Linked DNA regions of Homo sapiens: regions 1, 2, 3 and 5 are each reported to be linked to region 4. The links are microRNA targets in miRTarBase. Many come from high-throughput screens and were not tested one by one. Region 4 holds a microRNA gene; each other region holds the end of a gene's coding sequence.
Evidence for each region. The annotated mature microRNA hsa-miR-4671-3p reads UUAGUGCAUAGUCUUUGGUCU and lies in region 4 at 2,126-2,146, shown strand. An mRNA with a match to its seed (bases 2 to 7 or 8) in the 3' UTR can be bound and repressed. Matches are read on the target gene's strand: a 7mer-m8 pairs with bases 2 to 8, a 7mer-A1 pairs with bases 2 to 7 and ends in A, and an 8mer does both.

Region 1 (4,414 bases), not on the chromosome of region 4:
GGTGGGGGGCCTGCCAGGGAATGTTTCCCAGCACCTTGACTTTGGGAGCAGCCTAGAGCAGCCACAAGGTCATTGGATAATTAAGACAAAGTCAAAGAGGAGACATTTCACAGATACCTCAGCCAGGCACCATGAGGCCTATGAGGTCAAGAATGGAGAGAAGTTTGAGAAATTAGGAAAAAATATTAGCGTCAGCACACAACTCACTACAAATCAGACAAATCCTAGTGGTCAGATATCTTATGAATGTGGACAATGTGGCAGATATTTCATTCAAATGGCAGACTTCCACCGACATGAGAAATGTCACACTGGTGAAAAGTCTTTTGAATGCAAAGAATGTGGAAAATACTTCAGATATAACTCATTACTTATTCGGCATCAGATAATTCACACTGGAAAGAAACCATTTAAATGTAAAGAATGTGGAAAAGGTTTAAGTTCAGACACAGCCTTGATTCAGCATCAGAGAATCCACACTGGAGAAAAGCCCTATGAATGTAAGGAGTGCGGCAAGGCCTTCAGTAGCAGCTCTGTCTTCCTCCAGCACCAGAGGTTCCACACTGGGGAGAAGCTCTATGAATGTAACGAATGTTGGAAAACTTTCAGTTGCAGCTCAAGTTTCACTGTCCATCAGCGAATGCACACTGGGGAGAAACCTTATGAATGTAAAGAGTGTGGAAAACGATTAAGCTCCAACACAGCCTTGACTCAGCATCAGCGAATTCACACTGGGGAGAAGCCCTTTGAATGTAAGGAGTGTGGGAAGGCATTCAATCAGAAAATAACCCTGATTCAGCACCAGCGAGTTCACACTGGCGAGAAACCTTATGAGTGTAAAGTGTGTGGTAAAACCTTCAGCTGGTGTGGAAGATTCATTCTGCATCAGAAACTACACACTCAGAAGACACCTGTCCAAGCATAGGGCTATCCATAGTTAGGCCCACTGTGCCTCTCCTTTTTTCTCTTTATTTTCATGCTTTTTATCAGTGTCCTCGCTGTCCTTCCTGGTTAGACACTTGGCTTTCATCATGAACTCTTCTTTAAGTTTTTTGAACCTGTTTCCCCAACATGAAGTCTCTTTATGGTTAGAGAAGACCAAAAAACAAACAAACAAACTTAGAAACATAAAAGGAAATGTAAGTTTCCAGATTTAAAGGACATGCTGGGTGCCCAGCAGGATGGATTCAAGGGAAACCTACATTAAGGAAAATTGCTGTGAATTATGAAAACACCAAGTTTGAATAAGAGGATCATGGAGAAAAAATGAGACCCTAAAAAGTTTCTAGAGAGAGAAAACAAAAGATCAGAAATGAAAGCGGGGCCAGGCGCGGTGGCTCGTGCCTGTAATCCCAGCACTTTGGGAGGCTGAGGCGGGTGGATCATGAGGTCAGGAGTTCGAGACCAGCCCGCCCAATATGGTGAAACCCCGTCTCTCCTGAAAAAAAAAAACACAAAAATTAGCCAGGCATGGTGGCGCATGCCTGTAATCCCAGCTACTAGAGAGGCTGAGGCAGGAGAATCACTTGAATCCCTGAGGCAGAGGTTGCAGTGAGCTGAGATCGCACCACTGCACTCCAGCCTGGGCGACAGAGTGAGACTTTGTCTCAAAAACAGTAAAAAATGAAAATGGCATTAGATTTTTCAAGAGCAACCTTCAAAGTCAGATGACAATGTGTATGCCTTCAGACTTCTCATGGAAAATGTTTTCCCCTGCAATTCTATACTCCAAAGTATAAGTATAGAATAAAGGCATTTCAGACCCTTTAAATCTGAAATCTTTATCTCCCATGCATCCTTTCTCATATGTGCAACACTACACAAGGAGTAAACCAGTAAATAAAAAGACAGATATATGGATTCCCTATTGCAGTCCGTACGTCAGAAGTCTCCTAAATTCAAAAACGGGCCCTGTCCATGTGGAGCCAAATGCATCTTGGAAGACATTCCTAGTAGGGTGCAAACTTCCAGAGACCTATCTCAGGTTCAGTGTCCACCCACCCTACTTATTCTTCAGTTTGTCTTCACTAGACAGTTGTACTCTGTGCCTTTGCAAAAGTCAGGATGTATATACTCTTTGAGTCAGGTGCAAGGCACCATTTGTCTTAAATTTATTCTCATTGCTGTTTCAAGTGACCTCAAAGCAGGCAGCATTTTCTTGCAATTCCATCTAGTTATTTTTTATGATCATGGAAGAACCTACCATTATTGCTGTTACCTGTGGAAATGAGGGAAGATGTAAATGTGTTAGGTTTTAGCATCCCCTCTGGCAGCCAGCTTGATTTTGCAGGAAGCAGAGAGTAGTGATTAATAATACAGAGCCAGGCAGACTTTGGTTTGAGTCCAGGTGTTTGTCCTTGGTTAAGTTACAAAAACTGCACTAGTTTCCTTATCTGTAAAATGAGGATGACAGTTAATCTACCTCATAGGTTTGTGTTGGGGATTAAATGCATTATTTGTAGAAGTGTTTCAAACAGTGACTACATATAATAAAAGTATTACCTATTATTGGCCGGGCACAGTGGCTCATGCCTGTAATCCCAGCACTTTGGGAGGCTGAGGTGGGCAGATCACAAGGTCAGGAGATCAAGACCATCCTGCTAACACACTGAAACCCTGTCTCTACTAAAAGTACAAAAAATTAGCTGGGCGTGGGGTGACATGTGCCTGTAGTCCCAGCTACTTGGGAGGCTGAGGCAGGAGCCCAGGGAGGCAGAGGTTGCAGTGAGCCAAGATCATGCCACTGCACTCCAGTCTGGGTGACAGATTGAGACTCCGTCTCAAAAAAAAAAAAAAAAAAATTTTTACCTATTATTATAATCCTATTGGTAAGTTTTGACTTATCAATATACTAGTGAAACAATTATCACAGTTCAAGATAATAATCAGCCACCACCCCAAAACTTTGCTTGTACCCCTCCATAATCCCTTCCTCTTGGCCCTTCACAGGCAACCACTGGTTTGCTTTCTGTCACTTGGATTAATTTTCCTTTATTTTTTGGTCTGGTGTCTTTCACTCAGCATAATTACTTTGAGATTCACCCATGTTGTTGCATATATATCAATAGTTCATTCCTTTTTATTGCTGAGTAGTATTCCACTGTATGGATATGCCATAATTTGTTTATTCATTGACCTGTTGATGGCCATTTGGGTTGTTTTCAGTTTTTGGCTATTACAAATAAAGCTGCTATGGACATTTGTGTCCACATCTTTGTAAGAATATATGCTTTCATTTATCTTGATACAGGAGTGGAATGGCTAGGTCATTAGGTAGATTGGTATAGATTAAACGTTTTAAATTTTTATTATGTTTTTATTTTTTAGAGGTTGGTGGGGGGCAGTTCTTGCTTTGTTGTTCAGGCTGGACTCAAACTCCTGGGCTCAGGGTATCCTCCTGCCTCAGTCCCCCTGTCCTACTCTTAGTAGCTGGGACTACAGGTGTGCACCACCATACCCTATTTAACATTTTGAGAATCTTCAAAACTGTTTTACGAAAGAGGTTGTGCCATTGTACATTTCCACTTGCATTGTATGACAGTTGTACTTCCAATACATCTATGCCTACACTTGATGTCAGTTTTTAAAATTTTAGCTATTCTAATTGTTTAATGCTATCCCATTGTGGTTTTAATTTGCATTTCTCTAATGACTATTGTGCTTATTTGTGTTCCATATAACTTATTTGATGAAGTGTCTGCTCATATTTTTTGCCCATGTTTTTATTGTGTTGTTTTTGTTTTATTAATCTTTGAGAGGTCATTATTTATTGTGGATACAAGTCTTTTTCAGATATGTGATTTTTAAATATTTTCTTCTAGCCTGTGGTTTGCCTTTTCATTCTCACAATGGTGTCTTTTTTTTTTTTTTTTTTTTTTGAGATGGGGTCTCACTCTGTTACCCAGGCTGGAGTGCAGTACCACCATCTTGGCTTACTGCAACCTTTGCCTCCCAGGTTCAAGTGATCCTCCCACCTCATCCTCCCGAGTAGCTGGGATTACAGGTGCACATCATGACAGTGTCTTTTAAAGAGCAGAAGACATTAATATGCATGAAATCCAATTTATCAGTTTTTTATTTTTAAATAGAGATGAGGTCTCACTATGTTGCACAGGCTGGTCTTGAACTCCTGGGCTCAAGCGAGCCTCTTGCCTTGACCTCCCAAAGTGCTGGAATTATAGGCATGAGCCACTGTGTCTAGCCTTTTTTTTTAATGGATCATGGTTTCAGTGTCAAATCTAAGACATCTTTGCTGTACCCACATTTGCAAAGATTTTTTTCCTAAAGTTTTCCCTTTAGAAGTTTTATAGTTTTTGTGTTTTTTTTTTTTTTTTTTTTTTGACAGAGTCTCACTCTGTTGCCCAGGCTTGAGTGCAGTGGCAGGATCTCAATGATTGCAGCTTCGGAGGTTGCT
Region 2 (4,234 bases), not on the chromosome of region 4:
GGCAAAGCCATCCATCACCTTGTGTGGATTCAGAGAATGTGAGGCCCTGGGGTGTCCTACACAAGGGAAAGGCTTGCTCAGTGAGCGGTCTGCACACCGTTAGCCACCCTGCCACCTCTGTGCCCTGGGCAGGCTCCAAAGGAAAGCTCTGGCTGGGACTGCCAGGAGTCTCACACGCTCCTGTTGACATTCCCAGCAGCCGCCCCTGAGGTCGATGTTTGTTCTGTTTTTCTTTTTCTTTTTTGAGACGGAGTCTCGCTGTGTTGCCAGGCTGGAGTGCAGTGGTGTGATCTCTGCTCACTGCAACCTCCGCCTGCCAGTTTCAAGTGATTCTCTGCCTCAGCCTTCTGAGTAGCTGGGACTACAGGTGCACGCCACCACGCCCAGCTAACTTTTTGTATTTTAGTAGAGACAGGGTTTCGCCATGTCGGCCAGGGTGGTCTTGATCTCCTGACCTCATGATCCACCCGCCTCAGCCTCCCAAAGTGCTGGGATTACAGGTATGAGCCACCGCACCGGGCCTGTTCTATTTTTCTAGTTAAGGGAACTGAAGCTCAGAGAGGTGTCACCAGCAGGTGTTCATTCCCATGCCAGCCTTGCCCCCCGGCTTTTCCCAGGCAGGCTCCTGCGTGCCCACTGGCTCCAGCCTGGTCCTCTGTCTCTTGGCTGCTTCACTCCTGCTCTTTGTCCCGACTCTGGCCCTGCTTACAGGGGCCACTACCTGCTGGTGCCTCCATAACAAGCGTCTGGCGTTGAGACCCCTGGCATGGCAGGGGCTTTGGGGTCTGGTTTCCACAAGGCTTAGCCATGGCAGAACCTCGTTTTATTTTAACTCTTTGCCCCTACAAACAAACAGCAGTACTTGCCAGAACCATTCTTGGGATTCAGGAGCTCGGGCGACTGCCTTGGCCTCTGGCCGCACCCAGGAGGGTGGGGTTGGATCTGTGTAGTTGCCAGGCCCACACCTGCCAGCAGGGGGCTGACTGGATCCATGCTTTACTGTGTTTAATGGGGGTAACAGGGGTCCCTACAGCCCTCCCAGCTAAACATTTGGAACAAAACACCAGCCCTTTTGTAGTGGATGCAGAATAAAATTGTTAATCCAATCACCTCCAATGGCAAGGCCTGACCCTTCTGTGTGTGCAGCAGGTGTTTGTGGCGTCTTTCCCAGGAGTAAGGCCTGTGATGGTGGGATGGGGATGGCCAGACCCCTGACTCCACAGTCAGGACTGTTCTGGCTTATCAGCCACCCTGGCACAGAGAAGGTCACAGGGATGAATATGCCACGCACAGGGGCAGCACAGGTTTAGTTGGGTTGGGGGAAGTACCATGGAGCCGGCAGTGTGAGGGCTGTGCTGTGAGGGCCCAGTAGGATTTGAATGTACAGATGGGCAGAGGGCATGTGCCCAGCCCAGGCTCTGGACTCTTGCCACAGTGTGTGGCAACTTCCAGGGGCTTGTTTATTGGTGCTGCGTGGGGATGTCTCCTTTGTTTAGATGGCGTCAGAGGCAGAGCAGGTGTCAGTGAAGGGGAGTGAGCACAGGACCAGCTGTCTCCCAAGAGGCTGAGGAGCTGGCCCAAGGCTTTGGGGGCTGGATTTGTGCCTCACCCAGCTCCTGCCTTGTGGCTGTCTCCACAGTCCTCCCTACTGACTGGCTTTCTGCCTTTGTTTTCTCAGCCATGATGAGGAGCAGCCCTGGGCCAGGTGCCACGGTCAGTATGAGAGGCTCCAGGATCAGGCTAGAGAACCACGCGAACCAGGTCTGGGGAGCTATCTGTGGGAAAGGTCAGGGCCTGTTTTTCTCCTAAGCTGCTGGCTGTTCAAGGGACCTACCTCCTTGTCCCTTCCCAGTCACAGGTCCAAGGGGCAAATAGCGAATTCCCATGGAGGAGAATCACTGCACTCCAAGTGGACGTGGCTGGTAGGTAAGTGTAACTTTTTCTGCTGCTGTTCAGTGGTACTGAGAGACAGGAAAGCCCCACTGCTCCCGCCCCACCCTTTGTGATGGGTTATCAATGACAGCTAATAAAGCCACCTCACTGCTTCCTCATGCCAGCCCTTGACCCACAAACACTGGAGGAGACCTGCCTCAGGTCCCATCCCCCACCACAACTGGGCTTTAGCTGAAAGTTGTGGGTTTCTGAACTTCAGGAATAAGTCTTTGGGGACATTCGTTTGGCCAAGAATTCATTCCCTCATCTGCCCAAGAGCAGCTGCCCTAGGTGATAGGCAAAAGCCACATGAAAGCCACATCCCACAGCTCTTGGGCGTCATTTATTTTTTGCATAGGCATAAATTAGGATCTGGAGATAAAAAACTTAAGAACCAATAGTGCAGCATTTGTGACAGGAGAGCGCAAAACAAACCCTGGCTGCCTCGGGATGGAGCGGGGCGGCCTCACCACCACTGCATCCAGCCTCATGCTCCAGAGCGGATTTGAGGCTCAGTGCTGCAGTGAAGGCCTGCCCGCCTTCTTGCCCCTTCCCCGCAGCCAGACCACCAGACACAGCCGGAACCAGTGCCCCAGGCCCCTCTCCACGGCCAGGAACAAGAAACTGAGTATCACCCAGTGCCCCACAGAACGGGGCTAGGAATCAAGCCCTTAGCTTTTCAGTTAGAAAAACAGACCTTGAAAAATATATACATAATACAGTGGGGCCTGCTGGCTCTAAAAGTCCCCTCCTCCCCCTTCCCTATCCAGGGTAACTTCTGCCAGCCTCTTCCCCCAGCCCCCACCAACTGCCCCACAGAGAACAAACCAGAAGGGCGACTACCTGAACAAGAGCTGCAAGAGCCCAAGGGGGCAGCCTGAGCGGACGACCCCTACATCAGGGCCTGGTTAGATGTGGGGGCCGGTGCAGACAGACCTCGCACCCCGATACCCTGAACGTCCCCACAAGAGCCCAGGAGTTCCATGCTCCCCACTCTTCTTGCTATAACCCCAGATGCTAATGGCCCCAAAGACAGGTCTAGGTCTCCATACCCTGGGAGAATGTGGAAAGCAAGCTCAGGGGCACTGGCAGGCCCTAGCAGGAACAGGGAGCAGGGTGGGCCCCAACCTAGCATCAGGAGAGAGAAAAGCAACTACCGTCCCCAGCAGAGGGGAAGCCTACAGGGTTGGCCCTGGGCCCCTTAGAAGATCACAGCAGCCAGTCCCCTTTAGGGCACAAGAAGCCCCATGGCCCACTGCTACCCTCCCCGGGACAAATACACACTTTTGTCGAAGGCCCTCAGGGACCCTGTGGTTCATGCTTCCCTAGGTGGAGGGCACTAACCTTGTAGGAGAGCTGGGCAGCTCTCCATCAAGTGCTTCCTGCCTGGGGAAGTCCCATCCTGCTCTGGAGCTAAGCACCCTCCTCCCAGAGGGCCTCGCTTCCTTGCCCAGGGGCAGAGGCAGCTCACCTAGCCCAGGCCGTAGCTTGCCCCTCCCACAGCCCTGGCACCTGCTTCATCAGCTCCCAGGCACCAGCCCCTGACCCCAGCCAAGACCAGTCAGGTCCTACCTCTCCCAACTTCCCAGTCCCCCATGATATGCTACATATATACACACTCCCAGGATGGGAAGCAGACGCCACGGGCACAGAGGGAAGGAAGAAGGGAGCTGCTGGAGCCTGCTAACCGCCTCGAGCCACCTGCTGCTCAGGAGACCCTGCCCGTCCTTTTCATCTGCATGGGGCCACAGGCTCCTCTCTTGTGCTCCTAGAAGTCAGAGCGCCGAGCAAGCGTGTGGGGGAAGCGGCGGGGTGCTGTTCACCCACTCCCAGATGGCTGGCAGCAGGCACCAGTAAGCAGGGCTAGTGGGCGGGCTCCCCATGCACTCTGAAGCGGTAGATGCAGGTGTACTCGGGGTGGCCCCAGTTAGTCAGGATCCGCAGCTCCACCACCTGGTACGTGGCCATCGTAGGGGCCTGGGTAGAGAAGAAAGGGATTAAGAGCATCAGAGACCTGTGAGGCCTCACTGACAGAGAAGGTGGGAAGGGGAGACAGCCTCGCCTAGGGCCAGATGGCTCCCCTGCTCCTTCCCTGGGGCTCTGAAGAGAACCAGGCTTCAAAAGCTCCTATCTTTAGCCTCCTGAGCAGTGTTTCCAGCCAGTGGGTTAAGGGGCCACCTGTAGCACACTTCATCTGAAACCGGAATGAATTCATCCACAATCGTTTTTTTATTGTGATCAACAGATAGAACCACCTTCATAGAGGGCTTCATAGATGCTGATGTGGGGCACACTTGATTCT
Region 3 (3,000 bases), not on the chromosome of region 4:
CCAGGCTGGAGTGCAGTGACATGATCTTGGCTCACTGCAACCTCCACCTCCCGGGGTTCAAACAATTCTCGTGCCTCAGGCTCCCCAGTAGCTGGGATTACAGGTGCATGCCACTATGCCCAGCTAATTTTTGTATTTTTAGTAGAGACGGGGTTTCACCATGTTGGCCAGGCTGGTCTCGAACTCGTGACCTGTGATCCACCCACCTCGGCCTCCCAAAGTGCTGGGATTACAGGTGTAAGCCACCGCATCTGGCCTCTTTTTTTTGAGACGGAGTCTTGTTTTGTCTGTCGTCCAGGCTGGAGTGCAGTGGCGTGATCTTGGCTCACTGTGACTTCTGCCTCCCGGGTTCAAGTGATTCTCCTGCCTCAGCCTCCCAAGTAGCTGGGACTACAGGCACATGCCACCACGCCCGGCTAATTTTTGTATTTTTAGTAGAGATGAGGTTTCAATATGTTGGTCAGGCTGGTCTCTAACTCCTGACCTTGTGATCCACCTACTTCAGCCTCCCAAAGTGCTGGGATTACAGGCGTGAGCCACCGCACCCGGCTGAGATTTTCTTACTTGAGTTCCCAATGGGTCGTAAAGCAGCAGAGACAACTCACGATATAAACACATTTGGCCCAGGAACTGCTAACGAATGTACAGTGCAGTGGTGGTTCAAGAAGTTTTGCAAAGGAGACAAGAGCCTTGAAGAGAAGTAGTGGCCAGCCACTGGAAGTTGACAATGACCAATTGAGAGCAATATTAGAAGCTGATCCTCTTACAACTACATGAGAAGTTGCCTAAGAACTCAATGTCAACCATTCCACGGCTGTTCAGCATTTGAAGGAAATTGGAATGGTGAAAAAGCTTGGCTGGGCGCAGTGGCTCATGCCTGTAAATCCCAGCACTTTGGGAGGCCAAGGTGGGTGGATCACATGAAGTCAGGAGTTCAAGACCAGCCTGGCCAACATGGTGAAACCCCATGTCTACTAAAAATGCAAAACTCAGATGGGCGTGGTGGCGGGTGCCTGTAATCCCAGCTACCTGGGAGGCTGAGGCAGAAGAATCGCTTGAACCTGGGAGGCGGAGGTTGCAATGAGCTGAGATAGTGCCATTGCCCTCCAGACTGGGCAACAGAGCAAGACTCTGACTCAAAAAAAAATAAAAATAAAAATAAATCATGGTTCAAAACCACAGTTACTTTTGCACCAACCTAACAAAATATGGTTCAAAATAAAAGTCTGAATTTCCTATTGTTTTTGGAAAATCAGGTTTGACAACCCTATGTTGATTCCACCATCTCTCTCCTCATGTCCTGGGAGAGGATTTTGCCTCAGTGATCACAAATACAAGTGAACAGTGAAGGCCATTTCCACCTGACTCAACAGAAATGTTGGCTGGATCACAAAGGCTGTATCAATGGCCTAGACCTCCCTTCTCTATCCTTGTTTTCCTGCCTGCATAGCAATGACCTTGAGGTGAAAATCCCAGAGGCTACAGGATTCCATAAAATTTCTGACAATGACCTCAGCTACACAAGATACACAATTCTGTAGGTCCTGAGGATTTCTGTACCTGCTCATCCTTAAGAGCCATAATAACGAACATCATGGAAACCTCTGTAAAAGGGGCACATTCTATTTATTGCAGTGTTATTGCAGTTTTCCACTCTCTATCAATCCAGTACTTCTATAACAATTATAATTCCTACTATAATCTTACCACCTGTGGTGCTACCCTGTGGAATTCAGGATATCAAGGCATACAGGACCTGGGGAACAGATTTCCCCCACTGGCACTGAACACGATGCAGTATTCCTTGTGAACAAGAGAACAATTTCATGTTGCTTTCAGAAACATCAAAGGATGTCAAGTAACTGCTGCCTCCTCAGGCTGACCTCTATGGCATCCAGGATATAAATTAGGACAATACCCTGTAGTTTTTTCTCAGAGGCCTTGAATAGCAATGAAAACTAGGCTCAAACTAGAGAGAGAGCTATATTCTGCCATCCTACTGTCCCTGTCCCTGTCCCTGTTGAGCTACACAATGTTTGGGATCTCCAAAAAAAGTTATTCACCCCTTCATGTTAGCAGAACCCAACTGTTTTCAAACCAACCCATACATATAGAACCCCCAAGATTAATAAGGCCTTTGTTATTGTACAAACCAAGGCAATAAGAGGCAGTTGGTTCCCACAGTTGGTGATTTGAAGGCTGGCAAACTCTATCAAGAGTCATGTGAGACCAACAATATCCTGAAATATGTAGTCCCTCTTTTCAGGTCACCAGCAGAGTCCTCTGGGCCAAACTGGGTCAGGTCCATGGCCTAACTCATCAGAAAGGAAAAAAAAAAAACGGAATAAATGCTTAGGCTATTTACAAATTCCTCCCATGAACAGAACACCAAGGTTCACTTACCTGAATACACTGGGATGGGTGAGTGGTGCACACTGGTGGTCACCTGCCAGGCAGTAGAGGTAAAATGGCTTCCACTATAGTATCAGCAGAGACATAAATCTGACATGGGCCCTGGGCAGGGCAAAAGGTGCAATGCAGTTCACACATACCTGGAATTTATGCAGATGTTCAGATATAGGATGTTCAATTCAGGCTGATGCCACCCTCATAAGGGATCTCCTTCAGAGCTGTTATATCAACTGGACATCCCTACATATCAAAAGTGTCTTTCCCTTGTGAACTGTGTGGCACTCAATGAGATATGGCCTTCAGCTGAAGCTTTCTGACATTCACTGTGTACTCAAGGACTTTCTCCAGGGTGCTAACAGATTTTCCACATTTGCCACTCATAAGGCTTTTATCGACTATGAATTCTCTGATGTTTAATAAGGCTGGAGTTATGGCTAAAGGATTTCCCACATTCCGTGCACTCATAAGGCTTCTCCCCAGTGTGAACCCTCCTGTGCTTAATGAGGCCGGAATTTTGAGTAAAGGATTTCCCACATTCACTGCACTCATAGGGTCTTGATCCAGTGTGAACTCTCTGGTGTTTTCGGA
Region 4 (3,000 bases):
TCCTGACCTCAAGTGATCTGCCCGCCTTGGCATCCCAAAATGTCTATTAATTTCTAAAATGTAGTTATATATTTAATTTCCAAGATTATATCCTTTTTAATAACCATTTGTTCTTGTTTCATAGATACAATATCTTCTCTTATCTCTGCAAGGATATTATCTCTCTGCCACCCCACGCACATACCTATATAAATCCTTCCTGTCCTTTAGTCCTTCGGTTCAGCTCAAAATCCACATTTTTATGAGGACTTATCCAGTCAGCCCAACTCTCCACTGTAGCATCATTATATTCCACACCATCTATCTCCTATGTGAATATGTTAGGCTTGCATTGCCTCCTATGGAAGGATAAATGTTATCTCCCCAATTACACCTTCTCATGAGCAGGGGCTGCTCTTGAAAATTAAATGTAGGATACCAATATTTTAAAATGTAATAGAAGAGTTGGAATATAAAGTCAAGATAATCTCCCATAAAATAAGATAGAGAAAGCAAGAAGGAAAAAAGAAAATTAGAAGATCAAACCAAAAGATCCAATATCAAACTAAAAGAAGCACCAGAAAAACTGAAATAGAAAAAAACTAAATAGAAAAACTGAAGTGGAGGAAATTACAAAAGAAATAATTCATCTTAGTTTAAAAGAAAAGCTTCCTTAGCTTGAAAAGTTTACTTTTCTGTATCAGCCACAAGGCCTTGTCTAGAATTGTGGGAATGGCAAGTGCTAAACCAGTGTTTGTTGATATGAATTAAATGATAAGCCATCCTCATCCCTAAATGTGTGATATAACCAAATTTTAGAAATTCATAGAAAAGTTAGAATATGAAGTCAAGACAGGCTATCCCAGCTAGGATTCTTTAAAGAGTACTAAGAACATAAGTATGTAAGTATTTGTCAAATAATATGAGTGCAGAACTTATAGATTTTTACCATTTTTTCTTTTACCATGTTTCTTTGAATAATTCTATTGAATAATTAAATATTCAGTAGCAGTATTGCTTTTTTTTTTTTTTTTTTGAGACAGAGTCTTGCTCTGTCACCAGGCTAGAATGCAGTGGCACCACCTTGGCTCACTGCAACCTCCGCCTTCCAGGTTCAAGCGATTCCCCTCCCTCAGTCTCCCAAGTAGCTGGGACTACAGGCGCGCACCACCATGCCTGGCTAATTTTTTTGTGTTTTTAGTAGAAATGGGGTTTCACCATGTTGGTCAGGCTGGTCTCGATCTCCTGACCCTGTGATCCACCCACCTTGGCCTCCCAAAGTGCTGGGATTACAGGCGTGAGCCACCACCCCCAGCCTAGTATTGCTTATTTTTATTAAGTCTTTCTTGAAGCTCTCAATTTAGATTTCATGGAAAAAAAGTTTTCGTTTCCCACTCATATTTCATTGGTTTATGAAATACTTAATTAAACCGTGTAATTGAAATACCAAGAACAGCTAACTGGCACAAGCAGGATCAGAAGTAAATACATCTAATCTTTGTATGTGACTCAATCCATAGGAACAGAAGGACTTGAGTGTTCTGGAAGTAACCTGCCACCCTCTAGTCTTAAGCCTGCCAGCAGCATCAGTGAGCAGAAGGAATGAAGGGTGTTAGACTGTCCCGTCAGTAATGTGGGCGTCAGTCAAGAGAGTGTTGACTGTGCTCCATTTGTATACCAAGAAGAGGGAGGTCTCTGGCAGAAATGGATTCATGTTCATCATCTGTCTTGGGTTCCCTTGCAATCAAGGACGTACATGGGCCAGCCAGATCCTGAGATATTGTGCTGGGTTTTTTTGTTTGTTTGTTTTTTGAGATGGAGTTTCACTCTTGTCACTTAGGCTGGAGTGCAATGGTGCAATCTCAGCTCACTGCAACCTCCGCCTCCCGGGTTCAAGTGATTCTCCTGCCTCAGGCTCCCGAGTAGCTGGGATTACCGGTGCTCACCACCATGCCTGACTAATTTTTGAATTTTTAGTAGAGACAGGGTTTCACCATGTTGGCCAGGCTTGTCTCAAACTCCTGACCTCAGCTGACCCGCCTCGGCCTCTCAAAGTGCTAGGATTACAGGTGTGAGCCACCGCTGCCGGCCAATATTATGCTATTTTAAGACCGAAGACTGTGCGCTAATCTCTTAGCACTGAAGATTAGTGCATAGTCTTTGGTCTCAAAATATCACAAAGCTCACCAGTCCAGGGGGCCAATTGTCTTGGTCTCATTAGAACCAAGACCTACCAACCTAAGCTGTGATCTCCTGGCCATGAGGCCTTAAAGGGCCAGCAGGACTCTGCCAGGCCTCAGAGTCTCACCTTTTTCATCTCCAGGATGGGATCCCCACTCTCTCCCCATTTCCAGCAACTTGGGCCATCAATACCAAGCCATATCTGTGCCCTACCTCCCTTCTCCATCCCATCTACAATGATCAGGCTTTGGAGGAGTCAAATATGGATTTTCAAAGAGGAAGTAGGTTGCCCAGTTAGCCTTGGATGGCCCCTTCCAGAAGATGAATTGTTTTTCATGACAGTGAGCCAGGTGGAACTTGGAAATTCTGCTTGCATGATGTTCTTCTCTTAGAAAGGGAAACCTCTAAGTATAGTGGAGATAGATTGACATTAATGGCCAGAAAGAATATTTGTATTTTATTTTGGTCATACTCAATGGACCAGCATCACTTTGTAGCCACCATAATCACAAACATAAAGGAAGCCATCATTCACGGTCACTGCCCCTGGGGGAACAGACTGTTCTGCAAACAGGGGCTTGGGAAAACCCCATAGAAAATGTAGCTGGAATATTGTATGAAAATTACATGGCAAACAGAAATATCAGCCTCTCAGTTAGATGAGGGTTGCAGCTATATAAAGCCAAAATGGAATCAATTCAGTTGAATCGGTTTCATGATAAATTTAGTGAAGTGAATGTTTTACCTGGCCCCGGTTTGTTCAGAAGCAACATAGGACTCTGTGTACAGAGAGAGGTGGCCAAACTGCACCAGACTCCACAAAACGGTAAGTGTGTTTCT
Region 5 (4,209 bases), not on the chromosome of region 4:
TTAAAACATCATGGTTAAGTGTTGTGCGCCATATGATTTAGTGACTTCTTTGTGTAAAGTTTCCTGGAACTGACTTAAATCCATCAAATGCTTCTGTCTTATTTTCAGATGGGTGATTTACAATGACCACAAAGTTTGTGCCTCAGAAAGGCCCCCTAAAGACCTGGGCTACATGTACTTTTACCGCAGGATACCAAGCTAAACCTCAAATATAAAAATTGGCGAAAAGAAGCCATACGCCTTTTTAATTTGCCAAAAAAAAAAAGAAGAAGAAGAAGTTGAAACAACTAGACATGAAGGAATATATGGGGTATTTATCGTTTATTTAAAGAGCACGATCAGTTGACACCTTCTGAAATAGAACTGAGAAGAAATTTCTATTAGTGATGATACACTATTATATTGTAGATAGTTTTTATAAATGTTCAAAAAGATGATGATATTTAAAAACAAAAAAAGTATTCATATTGCTGGTGGAGGATCTGCCATCAGCACATCAAAAATGGGGATGTGCCCCCAGCCCTCTATTTTGCTTTGGGGGTCAGTGATAGTGGCCTCTGGAGAAACCAAATAATGTGGCCAGTGGTGTGGCCTTACCCACAACAAATGAAAAGCCCACTTGTGTTTCATATAGAAAATCAGCAGTTGGGTGGGGCTTTATTTGTGACATAATTTTTTTCATGACATACAATAATTTCTGATGTATCCATGTAGATATTATGCTCTGTCCATAATAGAGCCTCTGCAATGAAAGATATTTTTAATTTGTCACATTAAAATTCATAATACGATTGTGTGAATGTGTGTGAGACTGACTGAGAGTGTGAGACTTTTACTAGAAAAGTGAGTCCACTAGAAAATCTGTGACAAGTTGGTTTTTAAAGTCTGAACAGTTGATATTAAGCATATCTGAAAAAAGCAAGTAAATATTTTAACAAAACTATGACTCAGGAACCTTCGAGAAGATTAGTTCCCCACTTAGATTTTTAAGGAGTAAAAAGGGCTGAGTTATGCCTTTAAGTGCTGTCAAGAATTCACTTGGGTTTGGGACATTTGCTGGTGTAATGCTAGATGCCCACAGCAGCATAATATTGTACTTTGTCAAAGGTAGGTAAATTCTCTGTTTCTCAGCAGCCCTTTCCCCAAAAGGTATGGTGTTTATTTTTAGTAAAAATAGCTAATCTCTTTTTACCATCTCACATGATAACTCTTTGGAGTCATGTCAAGTGCCCCAAATTTGTCTGTGATTTTCCCATCTCTGAGCTCTTTATCTGCCTCCGTTTCCTTGTTTTTCTGGGGCCAGAGTCTCATCTCTGCCTTTTTTTGGTGTATCACCTTCTGACTTGCCTTCATTGCTTGTCTGATGTGACCAACAGTGTGATCTTGGACACACTAAGGATTTTAGATGCAAAGAAACTTTATACAACATTATGAAAGACTATCCTTTCCATTTTGGTTATTTCAGCATTTTAGTTGCAACCTGGGATTAGATTAGAGTTTCCAACGTGATGAAAAGTGGAATGATAGCATTCTATAATTTCCATAATTTTCCTACTGGTCCGTACCAAATTCTAGAGTCTCTGGAGTTGCTATTTCAGAGTATTTGGTCAAACGAAAAAGAATTTATTGCTGTCTGTTTAACATGTATTTGTTTGGTTGAAAGGATCTTTTTAGAAACTGTAGGAAAATAAACAGAACCAACCAGGTGAAACAAAGCACAGACATTGGGTTAGGATGTAGTGAGTTGTGAACAATCAGGATTCTGGGTGTGATGGGGGTCCCTGTCTCATAGGTGATCCTTTGGTGCCATGTGACCGAGAGACATGGTGTCTAAGGCCCATGGCCTGGAGACCTGGGTGCTGCTCCTAGCTGACTGTGGACCTTGGGCAAGTCCTTCATCCGTCCTGTGCCTCACTGTCCTCATCTGAACAATGGTATGATGACACCTGCCCTCTCTTTCAATCATGCTTTGAGGATACAGTGAGATTGGTTACAGTGAACCTTCAATGAGTAGAATGTGGTATGCCATGGTGGGTTGTAGTAGATGGTGCTCCCTGCCTTTTCTCCTCTGTTTTCCTCAATTTGGGAACAAATGAGATTGGCAGAAGGAGGGAGCTCACGGTGCAGTACTTTTCTACCAAAGTGTGCCCACTGGTGTCACCTCCTAATGTTAACTTGGATTTCCTAAAGCAGTCCCACTCTGTTATGAGAGTCACTGACTCCCGTGGACATCCCCACAGTAAGCAGCCTTACAAAATCCAGTCCCCTTAGGGCAGAGTGAGTGTCATAGAATAATGACTCCAAACCCACGTCAAAAATGGCTTGTTTTCAGCGATGTTATAAAACAAAGGCCTGTTTTTTGGAATTGGGGGTGACTGGGTGGTTTGGATTGAAATGTGGACAAAGATAGCATGTGTATTTTGAATAAAATAAAAATTTTGTAATAAAACTTTTAAAAATCAGTGATGTAAAATCAATATTTAAGACTATAGGCTATAAATTGTTTGATTTCATTAACTAGCCCTTTTGATGCCTAGACATGTTGTAAAAAAATTGTGCTATGGCTGCCTTTTCTTCTGCCCCACAACACAAAGGGCTATTTCTACAAGGCAAAGTTTTGTATATGTGCTATTCTTTACTTCAGATTGAGAGTTGGGAAAAACTGGAGTAAATAATGGGTTTCTTACTTGCTTAAAAGCATATTTATATGTGTATCTCAATATATACAAGGCAGGTTCCCCTATAAAAGTCTGGAATGTACTGCTTAATTTTACACTTGTGTAGACACGATTATTTGTGACTGAAAAGTGGAATAACGTGTGGATTTTGTCAACTCATTATCAGTCTGTTAGCAGTCCTCTATGTGAGGCATGGTGGTCTAATTGTGAAATTCTCCCTGTATATGGGTGTCTGTGTGAAAGACAGCACTTTCTTCCTGTAAATATCTTTTGATATCCATTTATGTAGAATTCCAATGAATATGTCTTTGGAAAAGGTAATGTATCAAAGTTTTTATTTTGCCAATTGATCTAAATGCCCATATAACTAATCAGAAATCCAGTTTGGTTCAGATTGGGATTTTCTTTTAAAGAAAAAAAAAGTATGCAGAAAAGACTATTGGAAGAATCATGTGTTAGTGACACTTTACATCAACGTTGCTTCAATATTTTGGAATTGACCAGGCTGCTTTCTCCTACCTGCAAGAGAATGTGCCTGACATTTCCCAGTGCTTACTTTGGGCTATAGGAAGTCCAGCGGGGATAGCTCGAGCCTCTTGCTCCCTGAGTCATTTATTCCCTTTACCTGAACAGAGCCTTACCTGCAATTCATAGTGAGAGCACCTGGGTCTGTATCCTGACTCCACTCTAAGTGAGGTGGGACTGAATCACTGTACCTCTCTGGGCCTTTTCATTTGAAACAAGTGGGTTAGACTAGATTAGCTCCAAAGTCCTCTCTTGCCCTAACATTTTATTTTTATTTTCCTGTGGTTACCACTAGGGTCTGACACGTAAAATGTGAGGGATCACTTAGAGGTTTGGATGTTATATTTTTGCATTGTTACAGCTTATACTCCCCAGTTGAGGACCTGTGTCATTCTTAGTGGCCCCACGACCCCTCTGTTTGTATTCCTGCTCCACTTATCTATACTTTTTTGGGTAATCATCCCACTTTTTTTTTTTCTTGAGATGGAGTCTCGCTGTGTTGCCAAGGCTGGAGTACAGTGGTGCAATCTCAGCTCACTGCAGCCTCCTCCCGGGTTCAAGTGATTCTCCTGCCTCAGCTTCCCAAGTAGCTGGGATTACTGGCGCACGCCACTACGCCCAGCTAATTTTTGTATTTTTAGTAGAGACAGGGTTTTGCCATGTTGGCCAGGCTGGTCTTGAACTCTTGACCTCAACCTGCCTCAGCCTCCCAAAGTGCTGGGATTACACGCATGAGCTACCGCGTCCAGCCCCACTTTTTTTCTACTCTTGAAAAAAACAACTTTCTAGTCCATGAGGTACTTTGGCTCCATCCCCCTCAAAAACAAAACAAAAAATCCATTTAAAGTGTCCTCCTAGAAAAGCCTCAGAACTGCCTTCAACTACATCTGTCACCTTTATAGAATATTTTGAAATTCTGGAAGAGGATGGGAAACAAAATTCTAATTTAGCTAGAGCTGTGATCCCCAAATAAGTGCTGACAAAATTGTCTACCACAGAAAGGCCG

Region 1: the mRNA of ZNF620 is a reported target of hsa-miR-4671-3p. Seed matches in the 3' UTR shown: 7mer-m8 at 2,377-2,383.
Region 2: miRTarBase lists SUN2 as a target of hsa-miR-4671-3p. Seed matches in the 3' UTR shown: 7mer-m8 at 2,331-2,337.
Region 3: the mRNA of ZNF154 is a reported target of hsa-miR-4671-3p. The part of its 3' UTR that is shown has no 7-base or 8-base seed match.
Region 5: the mRNA of USP13 is a reported target of hsa-miR-4671-3p. The part of its 3' UTR that is shown has no 7-base or 8-base seed match.

Annotation. Positions count from the first base shown.
Region 1 is chr3:40,515,939-40,520,352 of GRCh38, forward strand. It overlaps ZNF620 (zinc finger protein 620), which reads left to right. Exons shown (of 5, transcript NM_175888.4): 5 at 1-2,798. The coding sequence ends at 925. Among named protein-coding and RNA genes, the nearest start is that of ZNF621, 6.8 kb to the right of the region's middle.
Region 2 is chr22:38,732,472-38,736,705 of GRCh38, forward strand. SUN2 (Sad1 and UNC84 domain containing 2) reads right to left here. Exons shown (of 18, transcript NM_015374.3): 18 at 2,263-3,909. The coding sequence ends at 3,796. GTPBP1 (GTP binding protein 1) reads left to right here. Exons shown (of 12, transcript NM_004286.5): 12 at 1-1,116. Among named protein-coding and RNA genes, the nearest start is that of SUN2, 21 kb to the right of the region's middle.
Region 3 is chr19:57,698,835-57,701,834 of GRCh38, forward strand. ZNF154 (zinc finger protein 154) reads right to left here. Exons shown (of 3, transcript NM_001085384.3): 3 at 1-3,000. The coding sequence ends at 2,801. Among named protein-coding and RNA genes, the nearest start is that of ZNF154, 8.9 kb to the right of the region's middle.
Region 4 is chr1:234,304,387-234,307,386 of GRCh38, forward strand. It overlaps MIR4671 (microRNA 4671), which reads left to right and starts at 2,081; the gene lies at 2,081-2,153. The region is part of intron 3 of SLC35F3 (solute carrier family 35 member F3); the gene reads left to right.
Region 5 is chr3:179,783,940-179,788,148 of GRCh38, forward strand. USP13 (ubiquitin specific peptidase 13) reads left to right here. Exons shown (of 21, transcript NM_003940.3): 21 at 109-4,209. The coding sequence ends at 202. Among named protein-coding and RNA genes, the nearest start is that of PEX5L-AS2, 110 kb to the right of the region's middle.